5 separate regions of the Homo sapiens genome follow, and regions 1, 2, 4 and 5 are each linked to region 3. Evidence: fine-mapped expression QTL. A gene starts in region 3. Each other region holds a variant in brackets. All regions are shown on one strand. Distances are between the middles of the regions. Region 1 holds the start of LOC124901901 (a long non-coding RNA gene). Region 2 overlaps INTS10 (integrator complex subunit 10). Region 3 holds the start of INTS10 (integrator complex subunit 10). Region 4 has its middle 27 kb from the start of INTS10. Region 5 has its middle 36 kb from the start of LPL.

The links. PIP is the estimated chance that this variant, and not a neighbour inherited with it, causes the effect. A credible set is the group of variants that fine-mapping cannot tell apart.
Region 1: its variant is the best candidate, but not a certain one, in a credible set for the expression of INTS10 in cerebral cortex (GTEx, PIP 0.77).
Region 2: its variant is the best candidate, but not a certain one, in a credible set for the expression of INTS10 in whole blood (INTERVAL, PIP 0.77).
Region 4: its variant is the best candidate, but not a certain one, in a credible set for the expression of INTS10 in prefrontal cortex (BrainSeq, PIP 0.89).
Region 5: its variant is the best candidate, but not a certain one, in a credible set for the expression of INTS10 in monocytes (Quach 2016, PIP 0.70).

The regions. Positions count from the first base shown.
Region 1 is chr8:19,851,167-19,857,531 of GRCh38, reverse strand. INTS10 (integrator complex subunit 10) reads right to left here. Exons shown (of 17, transcript NM_018142.4): 17 at 5,465-5,883. The coding sequence ends at 5,727. LOC124901901 (a long non-coding RNA gene) reads right to left here and starts at 3,635. Exons shown (of 2, transcript XR_007060843.1): 1 at 2,419-3,635; 2 at 1-276. RefSeq lists an enhancer at 719-1,218. The variant A/G (reference allele first, on the strand shown) is at 4,655.
Region 2 is chr8:19,840,434-19,844,433 of GRCh38, reverse strand. It overlaps INTS10 (integrator complex subunit 10), which reads right to left. Exons shown (of 17, transcript NM_018142.4): 14 at 1,507-1,586; 15 at 196-358. Among named protein-coding and RNA genes, the nearest start is that of INTS10, 25 kb to the right of the region's middle. RefSeq lists an enhancer at 406-505. The variant A/C (reference allele first, on the strand shown) is at 1,701.
Region 3 is chr8:19,813,032-19,819,621 of GRCh38, reverse strand. INTS10 (integrator complex subunit 10) reads right to left here and starts at 2,206. Exons shown (of 17, transcript NM_018142.4): 1 at 1,956-2,206; 2 at 1,280-1,347; 3 at 1-49. The coding sequence starts at 2,084. RefSeq lists enhancers at 1,266-1,355, 1,566-1,655, 2,156-2,215, 2,256-2,335, 6,514-6,590 and silencers at 1,836-1,965, 2,486-2,625.
Region 4 is chr8:19,786,731-19,793,391 of GRCh38, reverse strand. No RefSeq gene overlaps it. Among named protein-coding and RNA genes, the nearest start is that of INTS10, 27 kb to the left of the region's middle. RefSeq lists a silencer at 4,327-4,527. The variant C/T (reference allele first, on the strand shown) is at 3,906.
Region 5 is chr8:19,971,885-19,978,545 of GRCh38, reverse strand. No RefSeq gene overlaps it. Among named protein-coding and RNA genes, the nearest start is that of LPL, 36 kb to the right of the region's middle. RefSeq lists a silencer at 2,501-2,701. The variant A/T (reference allele first, on the strand shown) is at 2,865.

The DNA.
Region 1 (6,365 bases), 38 kb before region 3:
GGCTGGAAGCAGACTGACAAGAAGAGGTGCGTTCCACATGATCCATGAGGGTCAGTGTATTTGGCTTCCCCTGTTGACCCTAACTTGGAAGTGGGTGTCAAAAATGAGGGAGGGTCTGGATTCAGTCCTGAGCATTTGGAGCAGATCACTGTGGAGATGTGGATAGGCTCTCCAGGCTGGTGGCTGCTCACGGCCTTCCTGTGCTCACCAGTGAATTGAGACAATTCATTGGCCTGGAAACCCTCTTTATCATCTCTGGTCAACTGAATACCTTTCCTAGACAGAGAAACTTTATTCAGTATTTCTATAACAACTCCTATTGGTAATCATAGTAATAATTACAGTAACGATAAATAGCAATGACAATAATTACTTTTATATACTTATTAATATTTATAAAATTCTTATAATCTATACTTTAATTTACATTTCAGAATTTATATGACATACAGGGCGGGGCACAGTGGCTCACACCTGTATTCCTAGCCCTTTAGGAGGCTGAGGCGGGCAGATCACTTGAGGTCAGGAGTTTGATACCAGCCTGGCCAACATGGCAAAATCCCGCCTCCACTAAAAATACCAACATTAGCTGGGTGTGGTAGCATGTGCCTGTGGTCCCAGCTACTTGAGAGGCTGAGACAGGGGAATCACTTGAACCCAGGAGGCAGAGGTTGTAGTGAGCCGAGACTATGCCACTGAACTCCAGCTTGGGTGACAGAGCAAGACTCTCCCAAAAACAAAAACAAAATTTATATAACATATTTATGTATTATATAATTTATAGATAAATATTTTGTATTTTATATATAGTTTATGTATAATAAAGTTATATATTTATAGTACTTATATAATTATATATGTATTAATTACAATTGTTTATAAATAACAAAAATATTCTCATTACTATAAACCTCGTGAGTCACTCTCACACCTGACTCTGCATCCTGCACCTTCCAGCTGAGGACTCAGTCTCAGTTTTTAACCCTCTAGCTGCCCTTTCGCACCAACCCCGGCCCATTCCCACCCCCATTTCACCAGGCTCAGGTCTGGCCATCTGGGTGACCTTCATGGATTACATAAAAGCAGCCACCAGCTTGTTCCTGGCAAGGGATGCGAAAGTCTGTGTCCACAGAAGCCATCACAGGTGGTGAGGATACCCGGCCTTGGCTCCACTCACGTTGGGTCACATTTCTTGGCCCAAGGCTGGCGGAGAGTGCCCAGCGTGTGCCTGGCCTCCACCTTGGAGCTCCCTGGTTGGAATGGGTTGGAGGGGGCCGACCCCCACAGTCCAGGAGGCCTTGACTTTTTTTTTTTTCCAGAGGGCCCTGGGCCAGGGCCAGCTATGGGTGGGGGACAGTGGTGCCCTGCAAGATTGGACATTCTGAGCCCTGAACACTTCCTCCGTTGCCTCCCATTGGTGGAACCCTTTTGTGGACAGAGAGCTGTACTCAGCGTGTTTATTGCTCTAGCTACGACAACGAATAATCATAACAGCGATAGTTACAATCATGATGAGTGACAGTGACAAAAATAACTTCAGGCCTGGCATAGTGGCCCACACCTATAATCCTAGCACTTTAAGAGGTAGAGGTGGCCAGTTCTCTTGAATCCAGGAGTTGGAGACCAGCCTGGGCAACATGGTGAAACCCTGTCTCTATAAAACATTTTAAAATCAGTCGGGCATAATGGCATGTGCCAGTGGTCCCAGCTACTCAGAAGCTGAGGCAGGAGGATCGCTTAAGCCCAGGAGGCTGCCATGAGCCATGGTCGCGGCACTGCACTCCAGGGTGACTGTTACTCTGGGTGACAGAGCAAGACCCTGTCTCTAAAAAAATAAAAATAACTGTTCACGTTTATTTGTTTTTCACATGGATTTATCATTTATAACCCCTACAATTTATATTTAATGTTATAGAAGACTGTATTACAATTTCTGTGATTTCATATTTACAGATAAATATTTCTAATAACAATAACATTTTTCCCATAAACCTTGGGCCCCACCCCACCTGAGGAATGATTCTCTGTTTTACCCCCGCTGCCAGTCTGGGTCCCCGTGGGCCCCTCTCTAGGTTGGCCCTAGCCTCTCGTCTAAGGTGGCAGCCGGACAACTGGTCTCGACCCAGCAGCTCGAGGCCTTGAGCTAGTCCACTGTCTCAATGGGCTGTCCCTTGGCTACAGTCTAATGGGGACCCCTGGCCTAAGGCAGGCAGGGGCCTATCGATGTGAGTCTTTGGAGGTTGATGGACTGCAGAAGAGAGACCGAGCCTGGCAGACTGCTGGTCAACCCTGAGGATGCAGGGGGCTACCCATCCATCTCTGCTATCCCCACCGCTCCCCAACTTTGTCCCAGCCCAGGGTGCATCCTGGCAGGGTGGCGAGGAGGCGGGGCATTGAGTCGGGTTGCCAGGAGGGTACCTGATCACTGCCGCCCCACAGTGTGGCTCCGGGTCCGAAGTCCTAGGGATCGAGAGGGATGGATGCATAGATGCTTGGAGCCTCCATATGGGTGGACAAACCCTGGTGTCCAGGACTGACTTTCAATGGATTGCAGCGAGGGAGCTGTTCTGCTGCTTAGGAAACCCAGAGGCAGGTCTTACTAGCATCATTTTCCCCAGGAACCTGCATTTGGTGACGAGTGAGGGGCAGGTGTCTCTTTCTGGCAGTTCCCCTTTTCCCAGGAGGGACTCTACATCCAGATGGACCTAAGCGTAGGAGGAGGATGCTGTGCACGCAGGGTGCACCCCGCTGCCAGGTGAGGGGAATGTCTGGGACGAGATATCCAAGGTCAGTCAAGCCTCCTATGCACCGCTGTATCTTCTGCCTGCCTTAAGGTCATCCCGATGGTAGCTTTGCCTCATTCGTTACTCAGACAAGCAGACACCAAAAGCCTGAGCCTGCAGTTCCTTTGTTAGGGAGCAGGATTGCCATGGCAACAGTACATCTCCTGTAGGAGTCTAAATGTTACAGTGGTCCAAACCCAGCTCAAATGTTCCCTGTCACAGGGACTGGGAGCAAGAGTTGATTCCCTGAATGGATTTCAAAAAGCCAGCTCTTGGGTTCTTGAGAAAACAGCTCTGGGGGGTCACTTTGCATCTCAAAGGGCAAAGGATGTGTAATTGCAACCTTTTTAAAGTAACTATTCTAAGCGAGAGTCCAGGGGCCTATCTGCCTATCACCTGGTTTGGTCTGGAATAAATTTTGGTAGCATGGAGCTTTCTCAGGCAGGCATTTTAAGCGGGACTGGGGTCATGGCCTTAAGCTGCTGGTAGCCAAGCTAGAGTTTGGTCAGGTCTCTTAGTGCAGCGATTTGGATGGAGCCATTATGTGCTGAGAGGTCTGCAGTTTTCTCCCAGCTCCTTCTTTTTCTGCAAATTCAGTCTGAGTTTCCATTTTATTCTGTGGCCCTTTCCCTGCAGCCTCTTCACAGAGAAGTGGCACCACTGAATTTTAAAAAAGATGGTTAATCCTCTTTTAGCTAGTACCTACATTTTGGGGTATTAGAAAGTCTTGTTGTGATGTGCACTGCTCCTGAAACACTGAGCTGAGGAAGCTGTTCGTGATGGTTAATATTAGGTGTCAACTTGATTGCATTGAAGGATGCCTAGATAGCTGGTATTGTTTCTGGGTGTGTCTGTGAGGCTTTTGCCAGAGGAGATTAACATTTGAGTCAATGGATCGGGAGAGAAAGACCCACCCTCAAGCTGGGTAGACACCAGCGAGGGTAGAACAAAGTAGGCGGAAGGTGGGATAAGCTGACTTGCTGAGTCTTCTGGCTTTCATCTTTCTCCCGTGCTGGATGCTTCCTGCCTTTGGACATCAGACTCCAGGTTCTTTGGCCTTTGGACTCTTGGACTTACACCAGTGGTTGGTCATGGGCTCTCGGGCCTTTGGCCACAGACTGAAGGATGCACTGTTGGCCTCCCTGCTTTTGAGGCTTTTGGACTTGGACTGAGCCACTGTGGGCTTCCTTCTTCCTTGGCTCGCAGACGGCCTGCTGTGGAGCTTCACCTTCTGATCATGTCAGCTAATTCTCCTTAACAAACTCCCTTTCATATATACATCTATCCAATAGTTCGGTCCCTCTGAAGAACCCTAATAGTGTTAGAAAACCTAAAGGTGAGAGTGTTTAATTTGGGAGCTTTTAGGTGGCAGCACATCCCATCACTAAAAAAAGGATAGCTTATATATTTGTAATAAACTCATATTACACTAATAAACACTGCAAAACAAGCTAGTTGATATTTTTGAGATCAGATGTCTCTTATTTAAACCATCTTATTGATTTTAATATAGCTATAAAAAGGATCTTTATTTAGAAAAGATTTCTAAGACCTTTTATGCAGAGTAACTGCAAAACTTCTTAGCTCTTTCATTCTTAAATACTCCCTTGAAACAAATTTTATTGATGTTTGTCTTCTGTATAATTTCATGAAGAGCAAAAGGAAAATAAAATTAGCCTAATTAAAAAAAAAAATTAGCCTAATAGCTAATGTTGGCCAGCACTAACTACACTCAAGGCCCTCTCCCAAGCATTTCACGTGGAGCAACATTTCATCCTCCCAATAACCAGCAAGGGGAGGACCACTCAGCTCCGTTTTCAGACAAAGAGCTTGAGGCACACAGAAGTTACCTTGTCCACGGTCACATAGCA[A/G]GTAAGGGCAGGGCAAAGCCAGGATGCAAAGCCACACAAGGCCACCTGGCTCCAAAGCCCCTGGGTAGAAACCACTGGGCCACCCTGGCACAGCAGCAGGGACTTCCTGGAGCCAGACAGCAATGGGGAGGCTGCTCTGCCACACCTTGCCTCTCACCTCCACTTCCTGTCCTGGGCTTTTCAGCAGCCCTGAGCACCTCTCCTTCAGGGGACCATCAGTGGGAGAGGTCAGGCTCAAATTCATTTTTACATAAATGTTTTTGGTGTTAAAACTTCCCGAATGAGGCCAGGTATGGTGGCTCATGCCTGTTATACCAACACTTTGGGAGGCTGAGGTGGGATTGCTGGAGGCCAGATGTTTGAGACCCACCTGAGTAACATAGTGAGACCCTGTCTCTACATAAAATTAAAAAAAAATAGCTGAGCATGGTGGTGTATACTTGTAGTCCCAGCTACTTGGGAGGTTGGAGGCAGGAGGATTGCTTGAGGCCAGGAGTTTGAGGCTGCAGTGAGTTATGATCGTGCCACTGCACTCTAACCTGGGTGTAGAGTGAGACCTTGTTTCTAAAAAAGAGATCACCTGAATGAAAACGTCTAATATTATGTTGATATGCAATACCGACCAAAGCCTAACTATGGAAAATAAAATCTTAAGGTCATGGAAGACATATGTCTTTTAAGTAAGTATCTATATTAGTAAAATTCATTACTCAATTCAATTATGCTGGATTTTCCCCCTTGCTATATGCTTAGAAAAGAAGAAAAATGCACCCCTGTTCAAAAACTCATAAGAATTAAATTTTTAAAAACTTCAAATTTTAGGATGATTTTTATTTACAAAACAGATTGGTACTTTTGTTTTACAAAAATTACAAAAAATGACTCTTAAAAATAGAAATAGCTTCTCAGACTCTTGGGAACTACTTTTAAGCAACCAAGGAGTTAGAACTCAGATGGTTTTCTTCTTTGTAACAGCAACAATGACCACGGCTCTGTGCCATGGCAATCACTGCTGAGTGTCTTCTCCTACAATTACACAGGCCCGAGCTGTGTCTGGTGGAAAGGTCTCCACTCAGGTCAGAGTCTGAAGGAGCAAGATCTTCTCATTAATGCAGAACCTGTGCAGAACCACCATCAGATTCTCTCCACAGCGGGAGACCTGGCGCTCCATGGCCAGGCGAAAGTCCTCCTTCACGCCTTTGGTGATGCCTCGAGTTACAGTGTGGTGCCTGAGGTCAGCAATAGGGAAACAGACAAAGACCAGGGGTTAGCACCAGCATCGCTGATCGCTGCTACTTGGGTAGGAATAAAGCCTGCCCCATATCTAAGTATAATTTCAGATATTTTAAAAAGAACACAAGAATAGCTGCAACCAACCAAACATTCCAGCCCATTTCTCTTCAGAAAGACTTAAAACTAGACAGACATCTTTCTCACTCTATAAAAGGTTACTTCAAACATTTAATTGTTCAGTAAAATGCCACCTGCTTTGCCTTTGAATCAATGAAGCTCTGGTGTTATGCATCCCTACTGCTGACTGGTACACAATTCAGTTACTTAGGGCCAAATGGGTCCAGTCCACACTGGCTACAAAGAGCTCATGTCCAGCCCGGCCAGCAGACCCTCCAGAGGCAGCAGCAAGGAGGGAGGAGACCTGAATGAGCCAATCACCCAAGTGAGCTCCCACCATGGCCCCCGCAGCTGGTGCTCC
Region 2 (4,000 bases), 26 kb before region 3:
AATTCCTTGAATCATGTCTTTCACGACTTTCAGAAGATCAACTGCCACAGCCCCAGTTTTAATCCCCATTCCTTCTCTTCGCTGCAAAATAGTAAAAATCATTATTTCTATCCAGAATGGTTCATTCTTTTTCTATCATGTATTCATTCTAAAGAAAATCAGAATGTGTTATGCTTAAACAAGAAAAAAGGATACTTGTAACGTAATTGAAAAAATTCTCATATTGGAAATTTCCTTGTTGGCAAATTTTATTGACAGCTTTCAGGAAAAGATTCTCGCCCCGTGGCCACTCTTGCTGAAGCAACACAATCACATGCCCCAATGCCATGTCGTCTCTGTTGTCTGTGAAAGCTCTAAGCTGCAAGACAAAGATTTATACAAGACAGAAGGAAAAGGAAGTCACAGGGTAATCTGAAATACAGCAAACATCACTTTCCAAAAATATGCTGTATATGCAAATGTGTGATAAACGTCATTAGAGTAAGAAGGAAACAAAGGCACAACGAAATGGCTGGTAAACATCACAGCTGCCTTCTAAGGAGGGTGGATTCTAACCAAAGAAGCCTCAGGCTCCCTCTGCACAGCTGCTGGCAGTGTGTAGATGGCAGTTGGACATGGGTGGGCCTGAAGCTTTTGCATATGAGAATCAGGGGCAGAGAACTCTGATTCATCCTGTGTAATGGAGAAATAAATCTGAAGATTTCTTTGAAAGGGAGCAGATGGGAGTAGGTGGGCAAGAGGCCATCCAGGAGAGAACTGTTTGTAGAGAACATGGGATTGCAGAGAAGGAAAGGTGGTGAGCCACAAGGAAATAAGCAGAAGTGTGAACTAAAGAAATGGTCAAAACAGTTTTTGTTTCAAATGAGCGGTTATGCATAAAATCACACTTTAAATTGTTTTTGTTGCCCTAAAAAAGTGATATGGATGATGAGTTAAGTGGGAGTTACTGCACTGAAGTGGAGACCCAATGTTTTACTCTCTGGCCAACAAACCTTCCAGAAACAATGAAGCCTCCCTGCTCTAAGGCTCTGCTCTACCTGTAGCCAAGGGCCTTGGCGTTCTTTCAAGTCCCGGAACTTTCCCAACTGTTGGGCTGTTACTGGTGTTGATCTCAACACCTAACATGCTTAATCTAGCACATCTTTACAATGACAAACTCATCATCCCTCCATGAACCTAACCGCAATTTGTATTCCCTTTCTTTGTAGCTAATATATTTATATTGATAAAATATTTACCAAACACTACAACAGTCAAGGTTATTTGCATATCTGTCCCACTATTACACTTTTTGAGGACGGGGAGAACTTCCTACTTCTCTTTGCCTAGCGCAGTCATTATTTAATATAGATTTGTTAATTAGTAGCCCATGTGCTTTTCTAACTGTTTGGGCCTGCCCTCAAAAGTACTAAAATAACAATCCTTAGCAAGGTTCTCAAGTTCTCGAGTCATGAGAATAATATTTGAAATTACATTTTTTTTCAAGCTAATCAACTTTAAGCTTACCTTAAAACAGGCTAACATTAAATGGAGGCAGTATGGCATGATAGCCTTGCTGGTACAAGGCAGGAGCTTCAGATCCGAACCTAACAGAAGTCCACAATGTTAGGTTAATGTATGTTATTATCAAAGATAACAGCTTTGAAAGGCAACTGTTTAAGATGCTTTCATTAACAACAACAAAAAAGAGAATATGCAAC[A/C]GTCACACAATTTCAATTATATTTGAAACACAATTATACTTTGTGATGGTGAAATTGGCTTTTGATGGTCTCTAGATTTCATTTATCAATATTCTTTCCTAAACTTGCTTAAATACTTTTTATGAGAAAACATTTCAAATATACACAAAGTTATATAGAGAGAATATAACACTGGTGTGCTCACCACTCAGCTTCATGAAATGTTAATATCTTAATTTTAAACATTTCTAATATCAATAATCACAAAATCAGTTAAAGCCTATTGTGTATCCTTCTCTGATCCCATTCTCTTCCATCGCAGAGGTCGCCATAATTCTGAAGGCAGTGGTTGTCATTCCTATGACTGTTACACACGTAAACAACAATGGATTGTTCTGCATGCTTTCAGTCTACTATATAAATGGTGTCATTTTGTATGTATCCTTCTGCAAATTGCTTTTTTTACTCAACTTCATGTGGTTCAGATTTATCAACTGGTCAATATCAATACACATAGCTCTAGTTCATTCATTTTCAGTGTTATATAGTATTCTGTTGTCTGCATTCCTTTTACAGAGGATATTGACATTTCCAATTTTTCACTATTACAATGATAAATATACATTCTTACATATTCTTGTACATTTGTGGAAATAACTTTAAGCAATAGCTTTCAAAGCAAAATCCCAATCTTTCCTTTCTGGTCTGTGTTCTTTATGTCTGTTATCTTTCTCTACTCAGAGGCAAGATAGCAAGAAATAAATATTTTTCACATGGGATCCTGTACACACATACTTACATAATGTGATAGATCCAAAACAAAAGGTGCATGGAATAACAGTCTCTCTTCTTGTCTGAGATGTCGTCTTAAAATATTATTGAATTCTATCTCATTAAAAAAGAAAATTTCTGGTTGAAACTCATGACCCTGTAAATGAAAACTCACAGCTTGAAAAACACTCATCTAAGGTATACAACTAGGACGCGAGGTACATTTAATAATTAGGTAATGACATGTTCAACTTGGTCATGGGAAGTTGGTTTCCAGAATGGTTGCATGACTTTATACACCTTCCAGAAGCACGTGGCACTGTGTTCCTTCACATCCTCTTCAATTTTTGCATTCTGATGTGTGTGAAATGGTAGTTTATTGTTTTATTCTGAATTGCCCATATGACAAAAGGTTGAGAATCTTTCCAAATAGTTTTTGGCCATTTGGATTTCTGCTCCTGTGAATCTGTTCTTCCTGTCCTTTGCCTATTTTTCTATGGGGATTGGATAATTGCTTCCTATTGGTCTGAAGGAGCTCTTTCAAAACTCTAGATACTAAGTTTTTGTTGATTTTGTGTGATAGACAATTTTCTGGCAGCCTATGCCTTATCTTTTCACTTTGATTGTAACAGCCTTTGTTGGTATTTTAATTTTAATGTGATCAAATTTACTAATCTTTCTATTTTTAAATTTTCTTCTAAAAGTTTGGAAGTTTTGGAGTTTTTGCTGTCACATTTCAACCTTAAAATTTAAAGGATGTCTATGTAGTGTGAAGGAGGGGATCTCATTTTTTTATTGTCGTTTTTTACATTTGGATAATAAATTGTTCTAGTACCACTTATTGAATAAATTCATTCTTCCCCCACTGAATTTTAATGTCATCTATTTCTCAGTTTTCTATGCTGTTCCACTGGTCAACCCCTGTGCCAATACTACCCTGTCTTAAATTACTAAAGCTTTAAAATAAGTCTTGAAGTCAGCTAGGTCAGTCCTATCCACCTAATCAGTTTCTGGAAGGTATATAAAGTCATGCAGCCACTCTGGAAACTAACTTAGCATTACCAAGTTGAACATGTCATTACCTAATTATATGCCTTGCCTCCTAGTTGTACACCTTAGATTAGTGTTTCTCAAGCTGTGAGTCTTCATCTACAGGGTCATGAGTTTCAACCAGAAACTTTCTGTTCTGCAGAAATACTTAATTTTTGAAGAAGTCTGGGCTAGATTTTTTTTTTTGACCATTTGTTATAGAAAACTTCAAACATATACAACGTAATCTGCTCCAGCACCATTGGTTGAAAAGTCTTTCCTTTCCTTATTGAATTACTTTGATGCCTTCATCGAAAATCATTTGATCAAATCTATGCAGGTCTATTTCTGGATTCTCCATTCTTATGTCGATATTTTGTCAACTCTGTCTTGATTATTATGCTTGTATATTAAGTCTTGTTATTATGTAGTATAAGTCACTTAATTGTGTCTTTTTAAAACCTGTTTTGACTATTCTAGATTATGTAATATTTCCACTTACATTTTAGAATCACTTTGTG
Region 3 (6,590 bases):
AATGCTGATTTCTCTCCACACCACCGGCTGGTCTGGGAAATTCACAAACCTATTTTTAAAATAAATACATTAAATTAAAATGTCAAAGTCTATACAGTATCCAAAAGAAAAAACGTTAGCATTTGGTGAAAAAGTTTCCTTTATTCCAAGTGAATGCTTAGACGTGCCAAAACAAACCAAAATAAAAATGTAAAAATAAGAATTACTTGATTTATAAAAATGAGAGTACTCACATAAGTCTTTAGTGGGTTTTATAGGTGAAAAGACAAGTAACCATAACATAGAAAGAGCTTCTAAAAGTCAACAAGAATAAAACAAACTATTTGAAAGAAAAAATAGGCAAAGGCAAATCACAGAATACACACAGCCAAAGAGAACAGTTGAAACAATACTGAATCTTATTAACAGTATGAGTAGTACAAATTTTTTTTTAAAATAGCAAGATACCATTTTCTCCTATCACAGTGACAAGAACTAAAAAGAGACTAATAATATCCAGTGTTGGGAAGGGTATGGGAAAACACACTCTTTATACACCATTGGTGGTAATGTAGACTGGGATCGCACATTTTGGAGAGTAATTTCATAGCGTATCAAATTTTCAAATGCGCATAAACTTTGACTATGAAAATGTCTTAGAATCTATTCCACAGAAAAACACCAAAATATGACTACAAAATTGTTGACACACTGAATATAATTTCAAATAATTTAAAACTATCTATTTAAATGTCTACCAAGAAGAGAGTGTCTACGAAATACTACACAGGCATGAAAAGGAATGAAGTGGATCTCTACATACTGATATGGGAAGGGGTCCATGAGAGTGAGTAAAGGAAACATGCTGCAGGGCAAAGGTAGTATGGTCTTCTCACTTTTGTAACCCCTTCCCCCCAAAACCTTATTTATGTATTATGCATACATGTATAGATATACTGCCTACAAAACTTAACTCTGGTTCAGTTTAGGATGCACTTTCACTTTTTGTTCTCTATAACAAGTAGTGTTTGAATTTTTGTAATGAGCACATATTATTTCTAGAATAAATTATGAAACAGAAGTTTTAACAAGGATAAAACATAAGAATAATAATTAAACTCTTCTGCAAAAGCCATGTCAGCAATTTATGGCAGGCCTGGACTCCTTACTAGGTTTGCTTTAGGTATCGAAGATATAGATGAACTTGAAGATCTTCCCCCAACTCCCACTTCTGCAGAGAGAAACAAAACCTCATGGAGAGATTCAGTGCAGTAAAAGTGATGTCAAGCGTCCCACTCACATGTCGTACAGCAGCCTCCCGGCGGTGGCGGTCCGCTCTGCATTCCGCTCGATGGTGTACATCTCATACTGCAACACACATCAGGCACCCTGGTCACTCACCCCTGCCCAGAAGGCTCCCAGCTCATCCAGCATCGCTCGTTGGCCCTCCTGCAGGAAGGGAGGGCCTGAGAGTGAAGCTCCGCCTGGTGACACAGCGCCACATACATGGCAGACTTGCCATTGGGCTTAGAGTGTGACCCTGGGGTTCACCTGCAATCTCAGGCTCCCAGGATTAAGTAGGATAATATTTCCAAAGTCGCAGGCCCTGAACAAACTGCTGCCATTATGATGAATGAAGGAGCGAATGGCCTTTTGCTAGTGGCGATCATGTGCTGTCTAGGCCAGATGGCACGCTGAGCCCCAGGGACCTAAGCACACCCGACCTCAAGCGGGATCGGCCGTCTCTCAAGTGCTGGGGAGAGGGCTCCTGGAAGGTGTAGGAGCAAGGCGGGTGAAAGGTGTAGGAGCAAGGTGTAGGATGGGAGGGGAGAGAGGAGGGGGTGGGAGGGGAGAAAGCAGGGGGCCGGGCAGGAGGCGGCAGCCCCCAGGCAGGCGCAGCTCTGGGCCAGGGCAGCCCGGGCGACGGGAGCGCGCACCTCCACGCAGAGCGGCCGCATGCACAGCCGGGACCTCACCTGGATGTTAAAGTCTGCCGGGTAGAGGCTGCGGGCCGTGATCAGCCACGCCTTGGCTGCCCACAGGTCTTGCGGCACCAACTCCCGGGCTCGCTGCACCAGGAACTCGCAGTCCCCCTGGGCAGACATGACCCGAGCGCTCTCCAGCCGCCAGCCCGAAGCGGCCGGAACGTCCGGCTCTGGACTCTCAGCCGCCACGGCAGCCACCGCCGCCGCCGCCGCCACCGCGGGGGAGGCTACTGCGCATGTCTGGAGGCGCACGGAGGCTGGCAGAGTGGATCGGGAAAGCTTTTCCGGGTTTTGCGAGCAGTCTCCTCCCCTTGGCTCCTCGTTACCGCCCGGTCCCCTCCTCTTCTGAGAAGCCAGAGCAGTTGAACCGCTTCCAGGTCACCTCGAAAATGCGGAGAAGTGGATTTTCATTCCTGCGGGCTGCAGCGTGACCTTGGTGAAGTCAGGGAGCATGCGCGGGAGCGGGCAGGCGCCAGGCCTCTTCGCCATTTCCATCCTCTCTGGGTATTGCTCAGTTTGTCGGGGGCGGGGGCGGAGGCGGGGGCGGGGAGACGGGCGGTCCCGGGGAATGGGCGGTCCCTGGGCGTCCCCCCGGCGTGGAAGGTTGAGAAGAAGTTTGAGAGGAACAGCAGAGGGTCGGGGAGGCGGCGGGAAGCACTCTCCACCCGGGCCGGCCTGAAACACCTTCCCCGGGGGCCGCTGCCTGCGACTCACTCCCCGGGCTTCGATTTACGCGAAAACTCCTGGGGCTGGTGGGGGTGATCGTGCAAAGCGTGAGCTCCGGGGTTCCTTCTCTTTCCGAAATCCGTCCACGTTTTATTATTTCACCTTTATGCACCGGTTTCTCCAACAAACGTTTATTGAGCAACGAAGTACTTGGAAAGCGCTTTGGTGGATGCCGTCCGTGGGAGCTGCAAAGATGACTAAAACCCTGACCCAGCAAGGGTTTTATATGTTTTAAATGTTCTGGACGTGAAACCCACAGAAAGATAACTACGCTATTATTATAATTATCTCCTCCAGCCACAATCAATGTCCTTTTCACCAAAACTCCAGATTTGTTTTCCATCTAAGAGATGAAAAACATCTAGGAGATTCTCCATCTAAGAGATTCTCTTGCCTCAGCCTCTCGAGTGGCTGGGATTACAGGCGTCCACCACGACGCGCTAGCCCGGCCAATTTTTGTATTTTTAGTAGAGACGGGGTTTCACCATGTTGGCCAGGCTGGTCTGGAACTCCCGACCCCAGGTGATCCGCCCTCCTTCGCCTCCCAAAAGTGCTGAAATTACAGGCATGAGCCACCGTGCTGGGCTTCGAAGCACTGTTTAATATCTCCTACTTATGCACAGAACAGCATAACTGTATGATTACTTTATGGGCCAGGATTACTCAGTGATACAGTTATTTTGGGTTTGTAGAATAGAAGATGGTAGAAAATTGGATTTAAACGGAGTAGGATAATTTTTATGTTATAAAGTGTACAGCATAAAAGCAGATTGCTAGCTTGAATTGTTAAAATTATTTCATTGATGTTAATATATGAAGTGTAAGAATTTTCAAATGGTAAAAATGACTGATTTGGTCATTAAACTTTCTGGTTTTGGTCTTTACCAAAAATAAAAAAACAACTCCACACTTGTTCCTGAGCCTAGTGTTCTGTGGAATAACAATTGTAAATTAAGATTTTAAATTTAGAGGCTAAATAAGGAAATTCTGTTTTTGTTTGTTTGTTTGTTTTTGAGACACAGTCTTGCTCTGAAATCCAGACTGCCAGTGAGTGCAGCAGCTCGATCATGGATCACTGCAGCCTTGACCTCCCAGGCTCAAGCCATCCTCCTGTCTCAGCCTGTGGAGTAGCTGGGACTACAGGTGTGTGCCACCACATCTGGCTAATTTTAAATTTTTTTGTAGAGACACAGTCTCCCTATGTTGCTCAGGCAGTTCTTGAACTCCTGGGCTCAAGTGATCCTCCTGCTTCAGCCTCCCAAAGTGCTCGGATTACAGGCATGAGCCATTGCGCCCAGCCTCTGTATGTATTTTAGATGCCAACCTTGAGAGGGCCTCTAGACTTTTTGCCAGAATACAACGTAAGGTTTGTGGTTATTTTCTAGTCAGCTTCTTGATTTTGAATGGTCCCCAGCTAAACATTTCTCCTACAGTGTTATGCTGGCATCTCAAAGTACAGAAGGGAGGTAACACACCAAGTGAGTTTACATCTTTTGGCCTCCTTGCCATGATCTTGACTCACTGGAGACTTGAGGCGCCTAGCTCATGTTCTTCTCCATGACAACTTTTTTTTTTTTTTTTTTAAAGACGAGTTTTGCTCTTATTGTCCAGGCTAGAGTGCAGTGGCACAATCTCAGCTCACTGCAACCTCTGCCTTCCGGTTTCGAGTGATTCTACTGCCTCAGCATCCCAAGTCGCTGAGATTACAGGCGCCAGCCACCATGCCCAGCTAATTTTTTTTTTGTATTTTCAGTAGAGACGGGGTTTCACCATGTTGATCACGCTGGTCTTGAACTGCTGACCTCGTGATCCACCCACCTCGGCCTTCCAAAGTGCTGGGATTACAGGTGTGAACCACCACGCCGGCCCTTGACAACTTCTAAGTCACATAAAATGCCCTGCATCCAGCACCCGGCTTCAATTTCCGTGAGCTCAGTTCAGTGATCTGAATTAAACTCTACATTGCTTTTCCCCTTCCACTTCAAAATCTTCAAACTCCAAGTTTCCTCACATAACCTCTTAACTTCCCTGCCCTCAACTCTCTCCTTGGTTCTTTTTAATAATTTCCTCCTTTCCCTTCTCCCTGATTTTACCTTCATGGGCCTCTATCCCCTTGACACCTACATTTTCCCCTAAGTGCATCTGCCACCCTTTGGGCTTATTCCTCTCCCACTCATGCTAAACCCTGTGCTCAGACATTCAATATGTTCATGTCTTTGCCTTCTTATCCTGCCACTGTATCCACTATTTTTTTTTTTTTTTTTGAGACAGAGTCTTGCTCTCTCGTCCAGGCTGGAGTGCTGTGGCGCAATCTCAGCTTACTGCAACCTCCTCATCCTCGGTTCAAGTCATTCTTGTGCCTCAGCCTACCGAGTAGCTGAGATTACAGGCACAAGCCACCACACACGGCTAATTATTGTGTTTTTAGTACAGACAAGTTTTCGCCATGTTGGCCAGGCTGGTCTCAAACTCCTGGCCTCAAGCCATCCACCCTCCTCAGCATCCCAAACTGCTGGCATTACGGGTATGACCCACCGCACCCGGCCCTTAAACTCCAAGTTTGAATACCACAGCCCTATTTATCTTTCAAGACTGTACATCTGGTCATATATGTGTTTTTGTTTTGTTTTGCGTTGTGTTGTTTTTAAACAGTGTCTTTCTCTGTCACTCAGGCTGGAGTGCAGTGGCACGATCATGGCTCACTGCAGCTTCAACTTCCAGGCCCAAGCAATCCTCCCAGCTTAGCCTCCCAAGTAGCTGGGACTACAGGCGTGTGCCACCACACTTGGCTAATTTTTTAATTTTTTGTAGCAATAGGGTCTGATAATATTGCCTAGGTTGGTCTTGAACTCCTAAGCTCAAGCAATCCTCCTGCATAGGCCTCCCAAAGTGATGGGATTACAGGTATGAGCCAGCACAATGGGCCCAGATAAGTATTCTTTTTTTTTTTTTTTTTTTTTTTTTTTTGAGAGGGAGTCTCGCTCTGTCACCCAGGCTGGAGTGCAGTGGCATGACCTCAGCTCACTGCAACCTCTGCCTCCCAGGCTCAAGTGATTCTTCTGGCTCAACCTCCCGAGTATCTGGGACTACAGCCTTGCGCCAACACACCGGGCTAATTTTTGAATTTTAGTAGAGACAGAGTTTCACCATGATGGACAGGCTGCTCTGGAACTGCTGACCTCAAGTGATGCGCTCACCTCAGCCTCCCGAAGTGCTGGGATTACAGGCATGAGCTAACACGCCTGGCCTGTATATGTATTCTTAAAAACCCTTTGATGGTTTATAATTGTGCTTCCATGGGGTTTGCAGCTAGCTCTCTGCCCCATCATTTGCTAGGAGCCTCCACCCAGAAATGCTTTCAGTTCTTCAATGTAGTATGTTCTTTGTCGTTTCCACACATTCATGTGTACTATTCGCTAATATCACCTCTGTCCTGCCTAGAACACTGCCCCCTGCTGGTCTCGTTGGGCTAATTGAATTTCAGATAACACTTCTCAGGGAAACCTATTCTGCCCCTACCTCCCCGTTCCCCCAGTCCTTACGCTGTTTCATAACTGATGGTTTACCAGACAGTAAGCTCCATCAGGACATGGACCTGACCTGTCTTTTATGCTGTGGCTTTCCCAGCCCCTAAAACATGCCTGACACTTATTGATAGTAGGCTAGCAATAAAATTTAGGTGAATTTTAAATGTCTTGGCCCTTCCCTACAAATGTACATAAAGCCTCTAATTTTATACAAATTTCATTCTGTCTAGTTTCAAGGGATAAAGAGTCCCTTTTGTTCAAGGCCAAAATCCTCACCTGTGCTTCTAATCCCATACCCTTGGCTTCCTTAGGGAATCTGTTATCAGTTATCCCCACTCTGTAGTTTCTGTCTATTTCTCCTGGTACCTTCCAG
Region 4 (6,661 bases), 26 kb after region 3:
ACAGTAGAAGAGCTAATAAGTAGTTGAGCTGGGCATCAAATACTAGCTTTTGGTCTAACTCAAAAGCCCATTCTCAGCTCACACATGTGGTTTACACTTTGAAGGGCAGTATTATCGGGTTGGCACAGAGACTCCATATTAACCAGGAGAAGCATTTAAGGTGGGAATGAGAAGTTGGGACTGGAGTCTGGGCAATTTGAGTGCTTGGCTAGGGCATTTAAGGAGCTGTGAATTCTGGGTGAGCAGTGGCCTGTCATTCTACTTAAAGCAGAGTCTAAGTTTGTTGGTGGCAAGGGAATTTAGCATTTCAAAAGGTAGTTTGGAAATACGTGTATACAGAGTGTCAAATGAATGCCTTTTGATGCCGCATTTGCACTTCTAGAAATTTATGTGAAGAAAATAATTAAGAATATACTCAGCTATGGTACTATAATAATGTTCAATAAACTGCTGTTTGAAATAATGCAAAGTTGGAAACAATGTAAATGTCTAACAATAGAAGATTTGGTTAAATAAGTGATGATCTATACAAGTGTGTAAAAACATTTGAAATGATGTTACATGAATGTAACTGCTGATGTGAAAAGTGTTTACAATATGCTTTTAAATGACGTATTTATTTACAGACAAGGGTTTCCCTACATTTCCCAGGCTGAAGTGCAGAGGTGCAATCACAGCTCACTGCAGCCTCGACTTCCCAGTCTCAGGTGAGCGTCCCCCTCAGCCTCCTGAGTAACTGGGACTACAAGTGTGTGCCACCACGCTCTGCTAATTTATTGTATTATTTTGTAGAGATGGGGTTTCTTCATGTTGCCCAAGCTGGTCTGGAACTTTTGGGCTCAAGAGGTCCACCCACCGTGGCCTCCCAAATTGTTGGGATTACAGATGTGAACCACCATGCCTGGGCACCATATGCTTTTTTTCTTCCAAAATCATTGTTGAATTAAAAAAAACCCTTTATTTTGAAATAAACTTATAAAAACATTGCAAAAACAGTAAAGATTTCTTTTCCTTAACCATTTTAAACGAAGTTGCCAACATGATGTCCCGATGGCCCTGAATACTTGTGTACTGTGGTTAGGTGTAGGTCATTCTCCTACCTAATCAACATACAACTATAAATATCAAGAAATTAACATTGATATCTGCATTAGGGTTCTCCAGCCTGGAAAAAACAAGGAAGGATTCTCCCCTAGAGCCTCCAGAGGGAGCTCAGCCCTGCTGACACACTGATTTTGGACTTCTGGACTGTAGAACTGTAGAGAAAACATTTCTGTTATTTTAAACCATGAAGCTTGTGATAATTTGTTACGGTAGCCTCAATAAACAAATATAATGTCCTTTCCTTGCTCTAGCCCTAGTATTAGCTATTTCTCAAGGAGCCCTGGTTCCTTGGTGTAGAATGTGTAATATACATGTACATCCATGAATTCACACTGATCTCTCTAGTTTCTACCTACAATCACAACTTTCACACCTGTCTTCTTTTTTCCCATATTAATACCTTCCTTCTCTAACAGTGAGAAACCACCTGGTTCTCAATATATTATTAGTTGAATCCCCCATATGTATGTAGATTAGCTCCCATTGTTACTGGTGGAGGGTGTCCAGGTTCTTGGTGTCTTTAACAAAACACACAAACAAAGCAAGGAAAGAATGAAGCAACAAAAACAGATTTATTGAAAACAAAACTACACTCCGCAGGGTAAAAGTGGGCTGAGCAAGCGGCTTAAGAGCCTGGTTACAGAATTTTCTGGGGTTTAAATACCCTCTAGAGATTTTCCATTGGTTACGTGGTGTACACCCAATGTAAATGAAGTAGTGGCCCTTGATCAGTCTGATTGGTTGTAGGGGGACCAATCAGAGGCTGAAGTGAAGTCACAAAGTTACACGCTATGCAAATGTCCGATTGGTTGCAGAAAGTGACCGACCAGAGGCTGAAGTACAGTTACAAAGTTATACTTCTATGCAAATGAAGGTTTGGCCTGTGACCAGCCCGATTGGTTGTGGGAGGGGACCAATCAGAGATACTTTGAAATTTTCATCTGCCACAGAGAAAAGGGGTGGTTTGCAAACGGAGTAGCCTCCGGTCCTTTTGTTACTTGGGCATGGAAAGTTAGGGTTTTCCTTTTGGTTTAGTTATAGGAAGTCAGTGTGAATCAGCCGTAGGTTCCCTGCCCCCAGACCCTATTCTCCTGCCTCACCATCACCACCAGTGCCCACCCCCTCACAGATGCTCTTCTCATCCTGCTTAGTCTTTAAATTCCTGTTTGGGAGCCGCCACGCAGCAGGCTGCCCCTCATGGTGGTGTCCTCCTCACTCAGTTGGATTATTTTTTTAATTTTTCTAATTTTTTAGTTAGTTTCTTTCTTTTTTTTTTTGAGGCAGGGTCTCACCCTGTTGCCCAGGCTGTAGTACAGTGGCACCATCTCAGATCTCAGCTCACTGCAACCTCTGCCTTCCAGGCTCAAGTGATCCTCCTACTTCACCCTCCGAAGTGGTTGGGGCTACGGGTGTGTGCCACCACGCCTGGATAATTTTTTTAATTTTTAATTTTTTGTAGAGGCAGAGGTCTCACTATATTGCCCAAGCTTATCTCGAACTCCTGGGCTAAAGCAATTCTCCCACTTCTGCCTCCCAGGGTGCTGGAATTATAGACATGAGCCACCGTGCCTGGCCCCACTTGAATTCTGACACTTTGCACGAGGCTGCCAATGTCACTCTCCACTCCTCTTCTACTCCTCCCCCTGCTGTCTCTGATGTACCCCATGCTGGGCTGCCACAGCCTGCCCTCCCTACCCTACCCTCACACTCAGCCACAGGGTGCCCCCCTCACTTGGTTCCACTTAATGATTTAATGATCTTGGACTCAGTTTTTCAGGAAGAAAAAGAAGAAGGAAAAGAGGAAAATAAAGGCAGAAAGGAAGACACCATCTACATTTTTAAGTGAAAAAAAAAGTCATACTCACATATTTGGGGGAAAATCTGTACAAGCAAAGAGAAAAATCTGGACATGCCTATGCTAAGATTATCCACAGTGACTGTCGCTGGGAGACTAGGTCTTGGGTTTACTTTCTTTCCTCTTTTTGCTGGACTTAATTTTCTTTTCTTCTCTTTGTCGTCCTCCCCCACCTTCTCCTTAAGAGGGGTGTTCAATGAGCACAATTTTTTTTTTTTTTTTTAGAGTCTCTCTCTGTTGCCCAGGCTGGAGTGCAGTGGTGCAATCTTGGCTAACTGCAACCTCCACGTCCCTGGTTGAAGGGATCCTCCTGCCCCAGCCTCCCGAGTAGCTGGGATTACAGGCATGCGTCACCACGCCCGGCTAATTTTTGTGTCACAGTCTGTTTTTGTAATAACTAAAATAACTAAAAACTTTATTTTTGAATATGAAAAACAGGGTCTATAATTAAACTCATTTTTTTTTCTGTCCTGTGTAGAGAGTAACTCAAATAGTATGGTTTTTAGGATTACTTGAGTTTTTCTTTTAACTTGAAAAATGGTTTTTGGAAGCTGGCCCACCCAGAAAATAATGCTGCTTACTTATTGTGTTAATTGCTTGAATCTGAGGGTGTATCTTTTTCTATCACTAACTGATATCTCTGACATTTTCCCAGCTGGTTTATTGATTCACTAAAAGATAAATCATTCATCTGTGCTGGGCAATGTGTAGAGTAAGAGAGAAAAATATAGAAAACAGGATTCTTGTTCTTTTTTATGCTCTCAAATTTAATACAATTTATTAACATTTTCACTTGTGTCAAGTAGAGCTGACTTGAATCTAGGCAAATACCAACCCAACTAAGAGCAAATACCAACCCAACTATAGCTCTTTACATTTCTACTCTGCAGATATTGGTGGGATGTATGTGGTTGATTGTAAGCAACCTGTTTTAGAAAGTTACATA[C/T]ATGCAAAAGCTTTGTGATATGTTATACTAATATAGCTCTGTAATATAGTTCCTGTTGCTCCAAATCTTTGTTTTCTTGAGTTACTTATGGTAGAATCAATTTCACTTTACATGTGGCTGTTGAAAACAGACTCCATTTAGAACGATTTATTCCATGAAGTCATGCTCTTTGCTCTTTGGAGCTTTCACCAGGGAAGTTTTATTTCTTTGTATTAGTGATTTTGGCCCGACGAAGCGTTTCTCCACTCTGACTGGTTTCTGAGTAAGCCACACTTGCCTGGGCCTTTTAGATTCCAGCTGTAGAAATTTTGAGCCTATTGAAAAATCGTTTCCTATTAACTCTGTAAAGGGAACCAAATGTGTAACACCCTTTAGCATTAGGTTTATATTTTTCTAGTACTTTTGTTTGGGTTCTTTTTTATCCTTGTGTCCAGTAACATTATTTGTAATGGTCCGTTTTCAGGGAGATTAATTACATTCTCGGTATATCTGCTTTCCTATTTAAAAATTTTCTTTCTGGAACAGGATTGGAAAATAATAGAAAACAGCTCACGCAGCTGCCTTAGTTACCAAGACAACAAAATGGAGAAATAACTGGCTGGTTGGCTTTTTTCTCTTTTTCTGAACTACCTTCCAAATACAGTCATCTCCTTCGTAAAAGCAACGTATCTGTTTGAAATAACTAGTTTGAGATTACTAGTTGATAGTTACTGTATTACTTTTGTCACAACAGTATTAAGTGCCCTGATTATAGTCTGAGGACAAAACAGTTTGTTTTTCTCCAAGTTTTCCTTTAAATTATTTAAAAAATTATATAGATAATACATTTATACATGTTCAGTATAAGAAAGTAAAACTTTACAGAGGTATAAAGAGTAAAAAGTGTAAGTCCTGCTTTCCAGGTCACTTATCTTGATAGATATGAACATATTGTAGTGAATATGATTTCAATAAATTGACTCTGAGTGAACTTCAGAGCAGTAATGTGTTCAGATCAGTAAGAACCATGTGTTAAATACAGATGTTAAAAGTTAAACATTTAAGAACCCCTGGCAGGGCATTGTGGCTCATGCCTGTTATCCCAGCACTTTGGGAGGCCAAGGCGGGTAGATCACATGAGGTCAGGAGTTTGAGACGAGCCTGGACAACATGGTGAAACCCTGTCTCTACTAAAAATAAAAACAATTAGCTAGGTGTGGTGGTGGGCTCCTGTAATCCCAGCTCCTTAGGAGGCTGAGGCAGGAGAATCTCTTGAACCTGGGAGGCGGAGGTTGCAGTGAGCCGAGATTGCACCATCGCACTCCAGCCTGGGCGACAAGAGCGAAACTCCATCTCATAATAATCATAATAAATACATAAGTAAATAACCCCCCCTTAACATTTATATAAGGAATATATGTTTCTTGTATAAAATTCAGAAAAAGACAAGCAAGAAAGTACAAATTACCCGTAATTGCAATACCCAGAAGTCACCCCCATTCAAATTTAGTTTCTAATTCTTTCAAGAGGATTAGTTTTTATTTTAAAGTCATACCAGATCATTAAATAAAAAATAAATATGTATTGCCATTCATAATAACAAAGCAAAAATAATAGCTGCTCTTATTAATACTTCCTATGTGTCAGCCCTGTAGTAAAAGCTTACATGCCTGTAAACACAACCATTTTGGGGTAACATTTGGCATATTAATTTGTGATCCATTCTTTCCTTTTGAATATAGGCATTTTTTTTTTTTTGAGACAGAGTTTCACTCTTGTTGCCCAGGCTGGAGTGCAATGGCGTGATCTCGGCTCACAGCAACCTCCGCTTCCTGGGTTCAAGCCATTCTCCTGCCTCAGCCTCCCAAGGAGCTGGGATTACAGGCATGTGCCACCACGCCTGGCTAATTTTGTATTTTTAGTAGAGATGGGGTTTCTCCATGTTGGTCAGGCTGGTCTCGAACTCCGGACCTCAGGCGATCCACCCGCCTCGGCCTCCGAAAGTGCTGGGATTACAGGCATGAGCCACCGCGCCCAGTCTATATAGGTATTTTGTAAAAGTATATAGTTATTGTTGTACTGTATAGACAATTAGAAGTCTAATTTTTGTTTAAAATTTTTCTGTGATTTATATATTATTGGAAATAATATATTTTTATATTACATTATCAGATAGCTTTTTAAGCATGCTTTTATTGGTTGTCTAATATTTCACTGAATGCATGTATGATTCATATATAATCATTTCCATGTTGTTGGACATTTATTATTTCTACCTTTTCATGTGGAGCTCTTTTTATATTATTATTCCTTAGAATAAATTACTTAGAATAAATTACTTCTAAAATCGATTTATCAGAAATGAATTTATATTATTATTATTATTATACGTTTTTAATATATTATTCCTTAGAATAAATTACTTCTTAAAATGGATTTATCAGAAATGAAATGATTGGGTCAAGGCTATGAATTGTTTTGGAGCTCTTGAATGTATTGCTAAATTGCCTTACCAAAGGGATACTGATTGATCCTGTCGTCATCATTACATAACAGCATTAGCGACTGTGTTTCCTATTCTTCTAATTTGATAGAAGCAAAATGACAACATGTATTTCGTTAGTTTCTCTTTGATTATGACTGAGTTTAGTTATTTATCCATGTTTACTAGTACTATTTCCTGTTTTAATGAATTTTTTTCTCTGTTATGATGCTGCATTTTATCCTAAAAATGTATGTCTTTTTTAAATCCCAAAAGTAATACACACTTATTTTAA
Region 5 (6,661 bases), 160 kb before region 3:
GTGTTGTTACTGGGTGAAGTGTACTATAGATATCTGTTAGATATACTTGGTTTATTCTTCACGGCTTCTGTTACCTTGTTGCTGTCTTGTCTAGTTTTTCCATACATTGTTCAAAATGCGATATTGAGATCTCTTACAATTATTGTTGAATTGTTTTCATTTCTGTCCATTTTTGCTTCATGTATTTGGTGCTTTGTTATTAGTTGCATATAAATTTATAATTATTATATTTTCGTGGCAGATTGACAATCTTATTAGAAAATGTTTCTCTTTGTCTCCAGTAACATTTTCTTTTGCTTTAAAGTCTATTTTGTCTGATATTAGAATAATACATCAGCTTTCTTGTGGTATTTGTTTGCATGATATGTGTTTTTCTATTATTTGCAATCTATTTGTATGCTTACTTGTCCATTTTAATTTTAGTTTAAATTTTGAAATCTTTTAAGGATTGGGTTGTTTAATATTGAGTTTTAAGGGTTCTTTAATAGTTTTGAATATAAGACCTTGATCAGATTTTTTTTTTTTTTTGCAAATATTTTACTCAGTCTGACTTGACCTTTTATCTTCTTAACACTATCTTTGGAAGAGCAAATGTTTTAAATTTTGATTAAGTCTTTGTTATCAGTATTTTCTTTTATGGTTTGTGCCTTTGATATCTCAAGAAGGCTATGATTAACCCAATGTCACAAAGATTTTCTTCTGTTTTCTTTTAGAGGTTTTATAGTTTTAGGTTTTATATTTAGGCTCAGCTCTAGTAATTTTGTATATATGGTGCAAGCTATAAATAGAGGTGGTTGGGTTTTGTTGTTGTTTTTGTTTGTTTTTACATAGAGATATCCAGTTATTCTAGCACCATTTGTTGAAAAGGCTATCAATTGTTCATTACATCCCATGGGCAACTTTGTAGATCATTTTTATTTATTTCATCAGATTGTTTACATAGATGATCATGTATGGAAACAAAGACAGTTATACCTCTTCCTTTCCAATATGGATGCCTTTTATTTTTTTATCTTGTCTTGTTGCACCGAATGGAACCTCCAGTATAGTATTGAATAGGTCTGGTAAGGCAACTATCTTAGCTTTTTTCCTGATCTTAGGAAAATAATTTAATCTTTTACCATTAAATATAGTTTTATATGTAGGTTTTTTGTGGATGGCCTTCATCAGGTTGAGGACATATCCTTCTATTCCTAATTTTCTGAGAGTTTTTTTTATCATGAATAAATATCAAATTTTGACAAATCCATCTTTATCTTCATTTTTTATGGTTGCAAAATAATCATAACTGACATATATGTGTTGTTCACTAATTTGCTATTACAAGCAAAATTGTAATGACTGAGACTATGGTAATATCCTTTTGCAGATGTGTATCTTCAAGGTAAATTCCCAAGAGCAGAACCATTAGAAAAGGATATGTATTTATAATTTTGAAAGGTATTACCAATTGTCTTCTACAAGGATTGCACCAATATACATTACTATCTGCAATGTAAGACTTATTTTCCTTTAGAGTTGCAAACAAGGTGTATTTTTAAACTTTGAGATTTTCTGAATCTAAATTGGTAAAAAGTGGCATTTTCATGTATTATTAAATTCTATCTCTTATTATGCATGACAATGACTACCTTTCATATGTTTAAGGACCACTTTATGTTTAGATTTGTGTTCCATCTTTTGCTCTTTTTTCCTTTGTGTGTGTGTGTGTGTGTGTGTGTGTGATTTTATTGATTTTTAGAAACTCACAATTACTATTTTTTGAGACAGAGTTTTTGCTCCTGTTGCGTAGGCTGGAGTGCAATGGCGTGATCTTGACTCACCACAACCTCCGCCTCCTGGGTTCAAGGGATTCTCTTCCCTCAGCCTCCCGAGTAGCTAGGATTACAGGCATTCACCACCACGCCCAGCTAATTTTGTATTTTTAGTAGAGATGGGGTTTCTTCACATTGGTCAGGCTGGTCTCGAACTCTCGACTTCAGGTGATCTGCCCGCCTCGGCCTCCCAAAGTGCTGGGATTACAGGCGTGAGCTACCGCGTTCAGCCAAAACTTACTTTTTACTTTTTATATATCAATTTTGGGGGGATCAATTTGTTATCTTTTGACTTTGCTTATATTTCAGCTTATCTTAAATGGGTTACATTTTCTTCCATTAATTTTTCTGCTGAGCTTTTAGGCATGTGACTTAGGAGAAAATGTGAGAAACACTATAGTTACGTCAATTATTTTGACAAATCACTTTTTGGAAAGATATTCACACGTGGTGAGCCTTCTAAAAATGGTGTGCTGATTTCTGTTACTTTTTTTCATAGAAATTATACAATATAACTTGAGCATTTCTTCTTTTACTGGTGTGAATAAAATGTACCACCCTCACTTCCTCACACCCTACATCCTACCCTTTAATGAACCAGTAAACATCAAGGAGCAGCGTGATGCTGTTTGTTGTACATGAAGTTAAAATGTGCCCTTGGACTTGAGGTCACCTTGAAATAATGAGTGACCTGGTCTCAGAAGGCTCCATACCTCTGAAGGGACACTTATCATTGTCATCTTAGTCAAATCACATGTGGCGGCAGAGGAATCTTACGGCCTCATTTAACAACCCAGGCTCACCTCTGACCTGGGGACATCTAAAAGCCTAATTTTCTAGCCCTTACATCGTTATCAAAATGCTGAGTTCACAGTGTTACTCAGGCACATCAACGAGCTCTTTATTTAACTAGCACTGTCATTGCCCTCAATGTGTGACACAAACTCACATGATTTTGGCCCATACAATGGAAAAATAAGGTTGGTTTTTACTTTAAAATCAATATTAAGTTATTAAAATGATAGCATATCAAGACATGAGTATCTTCCT[A/T]CCTTCTTTCTAACTTCTGTTTTCTGTTGCTTTTTTTAAAAAAACCTGACTCAAAATCACCCGCTCTTTCCTAATGATCTATTTTGGTCAATATCTCAGTTCCTTTTTGTCTCCTGGTTGTTTTCTCCTTCTTAGGACATATAGGAAAATCTCTTTCTAGAACAAATTGTGTTCCTTTTCGTTACATCCTTGAGAAACTCAGTTTAATGAATCAAAGAAGGTATTTTTAGAGCATCCTACATGTTCTGTTCCCAGGAAGAATGAGTGTACTGGTCAATTTTGATTACACCCTCTGCTTGTAGAAACCTACAGAAGTGGAGACATGGAGAGAAAAATGAGAAGTTTCATTCATTTATGCTGCTTGTTGGAGTTTAAAAGTACTTATTCATGACAGTCTTTATTCATTTATGTATGCATTTGTTCAACAAATTATTAAATACACTTATTTTTATACTTTGAATTTTTAAAAGAAAAGTAGATGGATAATATAATCGTTATTGCCAAAGGAACTGAGAAGGCAAGACAAACAGTGATGCAAATCAATTTCTGGGCAACAGAATGCTGGGGGAAATGTAGGGCCAAAATAATATTGCAACAGCATTTTTCTAGCTTCTTCGTCCCCCTTCTTTATATCCAGGTATCTTCAGCATCTTTAAATCATTCATAACAAACTTGGGTGAGAAACAGAGCAGTGAGTAAAGTCAGGGTTAGCATGTACAGTATAGTGCCTGTGCATGAATTACCAAAATTTGCCCACTCTGGGCAGATGAATTACAAAAAGACAAGTGTATGAAGACCTTTGTCACTCCTAGCTTTTTTTTTTTTTTTTTTTTTTTTTTTTTTTTGAGACGGAGTTTCGCTCTGTCGCCCAGGCTGGAGTGCAGTGGCGCGATCTCGACTCACTGCAAGCTCCGCCTCCCGGGTTCACGCCATTCTCCTGCCTCAGCCTCCCGTGTAGCTGGGACTACAGGCGCGCGCCACCATGCCCGGCTAATTTTTGTATTTTTAGTAGAGACGGGGTTTCACCGTGTTAGCCAGGATGGTCTCGATCTCCTGACCTCGTGATCCGCCCGTCTCGGCCTCCCAAAGTGCTGGGATTACAGGCGTGAGCCACCGCGCCCGGCCCACTCCTAGCTTTTCTATATACTCCCATAAGTCTGCTCAAATATGCCACAGGCTGCATGACACTAGCACCTTGCAAAATTGCCCGCACATCGTAGGTACTTGATAAAAATTTGCATTGACCTTACATTTTCCTTCCTTTTTCCATCCGGCTGTTACTAATATCACTTGTCACAACCCACCACAAACGAGTTGCCGAAGCACAGGGGGTGTCAAGGTTCCCTGACCTGTGGAGTCCGCACTGAAGTCAGTGCAGCTCACAAAAGCCACCATAGACCCCAGCACATTAGAAGCTTGCTGGGAAAATGTTGGACCACCATGCCCCACACCATGGATGCCAAATCTAGCAATTCACAGATTATCATAGTTGCTTCTCCCTAAACCTCAGGCAACTCCCATAGGCTGGGCTGCCAGACAATAGAAACAGACACATGGTGGAAGTCAAAGTTGCCTCTCCTCTCTGTCTTGGGCCTCCATCCTTGAGTCACTTTTATGTGTTTTGCTTCTCTTTTCTCTTGGGAAAAATTTTTTCTGCCAATGTATTTCTGGTGCACCATCTCCAAGTGCCCCAGATATGTTCAAACAGGCTTAAAACTCAAAGGGGGGAAAAATCAACAACTCCAACTTTGAAGTCACACATTGGTTTAAAAGCCAACTCACCCACTTACTAGCTTTGATTTCTAAATTAATTCATTTCCCTGCATCTCGTTATATTCATCAATAAAGAGAAGATAAAAATACCTATTTCAGGAGGCTATTGTGAGAATGAAACAAATGTTAACCAAGCACTTCACACAGTGCCTGGCACATAGTTGATGCAGAAAAACTGGTAGTAATTATTTTTAGTAACACAACATCGGAGCAAGTACATGCAACACTTGTGCTGACAGGTAGATCGTAGTGGTAACATAGCAATGGAAGAAAAAAAGATTTCAGAAGGGAGCTCAGAAGAGTGAAAGTAGTCATTAAAGGTACTTAGAAAATAGGGTGGTCATTATAGGCAGAGAGGGACATTTGAGCAAAAATATAGAGACTACAGAAAAAAACTTTGTTTAGGGAAAGAGTAAGAGGCCAGGTTGTCCGGCGAAGAGCTTTATGTTAAATGCATGAAGAATAACTGGGATTAGTTGGAGAAGTCTGGGGAGTACAGTGATTTATTGTCTTTACCGACCTACTCTCCTTAACTTGCAACTTGGACCATTTGATCACCATTAAGGGACTTTAGGAATCCAAATTTTGGCCTAGCACAGCATGACTCAGGAAATGGTGTTGGGATTGCATCCTCAGGCTATCCCATTGTGGTGATGTGAGCTTGGACTTTGCACATAACCTCTCCCCATTTGTAATGGGGCAATGGTGCCAACCTCATAGAATTATTATGAGGATTAGAAAAGATGTATTTGAGGGCCTGGATCACATAGTCTTTGGATCTAAGGTGCAGATCTTGTGCCAATTCTTAGCGTCTCATCCATGATGTGATTTCTGCTGCCACACCAGTGCCATCTGGAAACATAAAGATTAAGGGAAATATCATCATCCTCAGCTTATGCTGCCAAATTTTATAAATCTTATTATTGATTCTTATCTCCTTTAGAGCTTTCTCCAGTTGTGTGCTAAGAAGGAATTTCATTTTGATTATGAAACCTTTGTGTTTCACATTTGGCTGAGGAGGCATTGTCTTTGACTTAGCAATCTCTTGATTAAAAGACCCTGGAGTTGTTGGAGCCCTGTCAGCGGAATGGGTGGAGTCGGAGAAGTGCCTTCATTCCAGATACCTTCTCTTAATCTCATGTCAGCAGATTTCCATTGTAGGTCCAGAGCCTGTTACAAGAGGATGAAGGATCTGAGCCCTGATAAAGGAATGAGGTCCCTATGCTGGAACTCTAGCACAGGCTTTCTGAGTGAAGTCTGTTCAAAGCCCACATTTCCTGAAAAATCAGTCATCATGAGGAACTGATCTGTGAGGACCAGAGAACAGAGTTGCCAATGTAATTCGATGGAGAGAGGATATTTTTTTCAACAAATTGCTGGAATAATTTGACTATGTAAAAAAGAAATTATTGCCACAACTACCACAACAAAAACAAAAAACACCTCTAACCACAGATAGTACCATATACAAAAATTAGCTAGAAATGGGCTAAATGTAAAACAGGGTGAATAACAACAGTATGCGTACAAACACACACATGCATATGCAAACAATAATTTATAGTTTTTTTGTTGTTAGGCAGGATGAAAAATACAGAGAGTTGAAGTACTGGGTAGAGGAATGGGATGCTACGATCTACTCTAGAAAGTTCACCTGATTCATTATTAATAGACTAATGAGAAGCAAGAGCAGTAGCAGAGAAACCAGGAGAGACTATTGAAATAATCCAGTGAAACCTGATGGCATAACATTAAAAATGGTAAAATGCAGTCAGATTCTGGATATATTTTTAAGTGAAGCTGATAGAATTTTTTTTTTTTTTTTTTTTTGAGACAGGGTCTTTCTCTGTCACCCAGGCTAGAGTGCTTTTTCGCTAATAAAAGCTCGCTGCAGCCTCAACCTCCTGGGCTCAAGCTATGCTCAAACCTCAGTCTCCTGAAAATACAAGTATGCATCACTATGCCCAGCTAAGTGTTTTTTTTTTTTTTTTTTTTTTTAGTAGAGATGGCGTCTTGCCATGTTG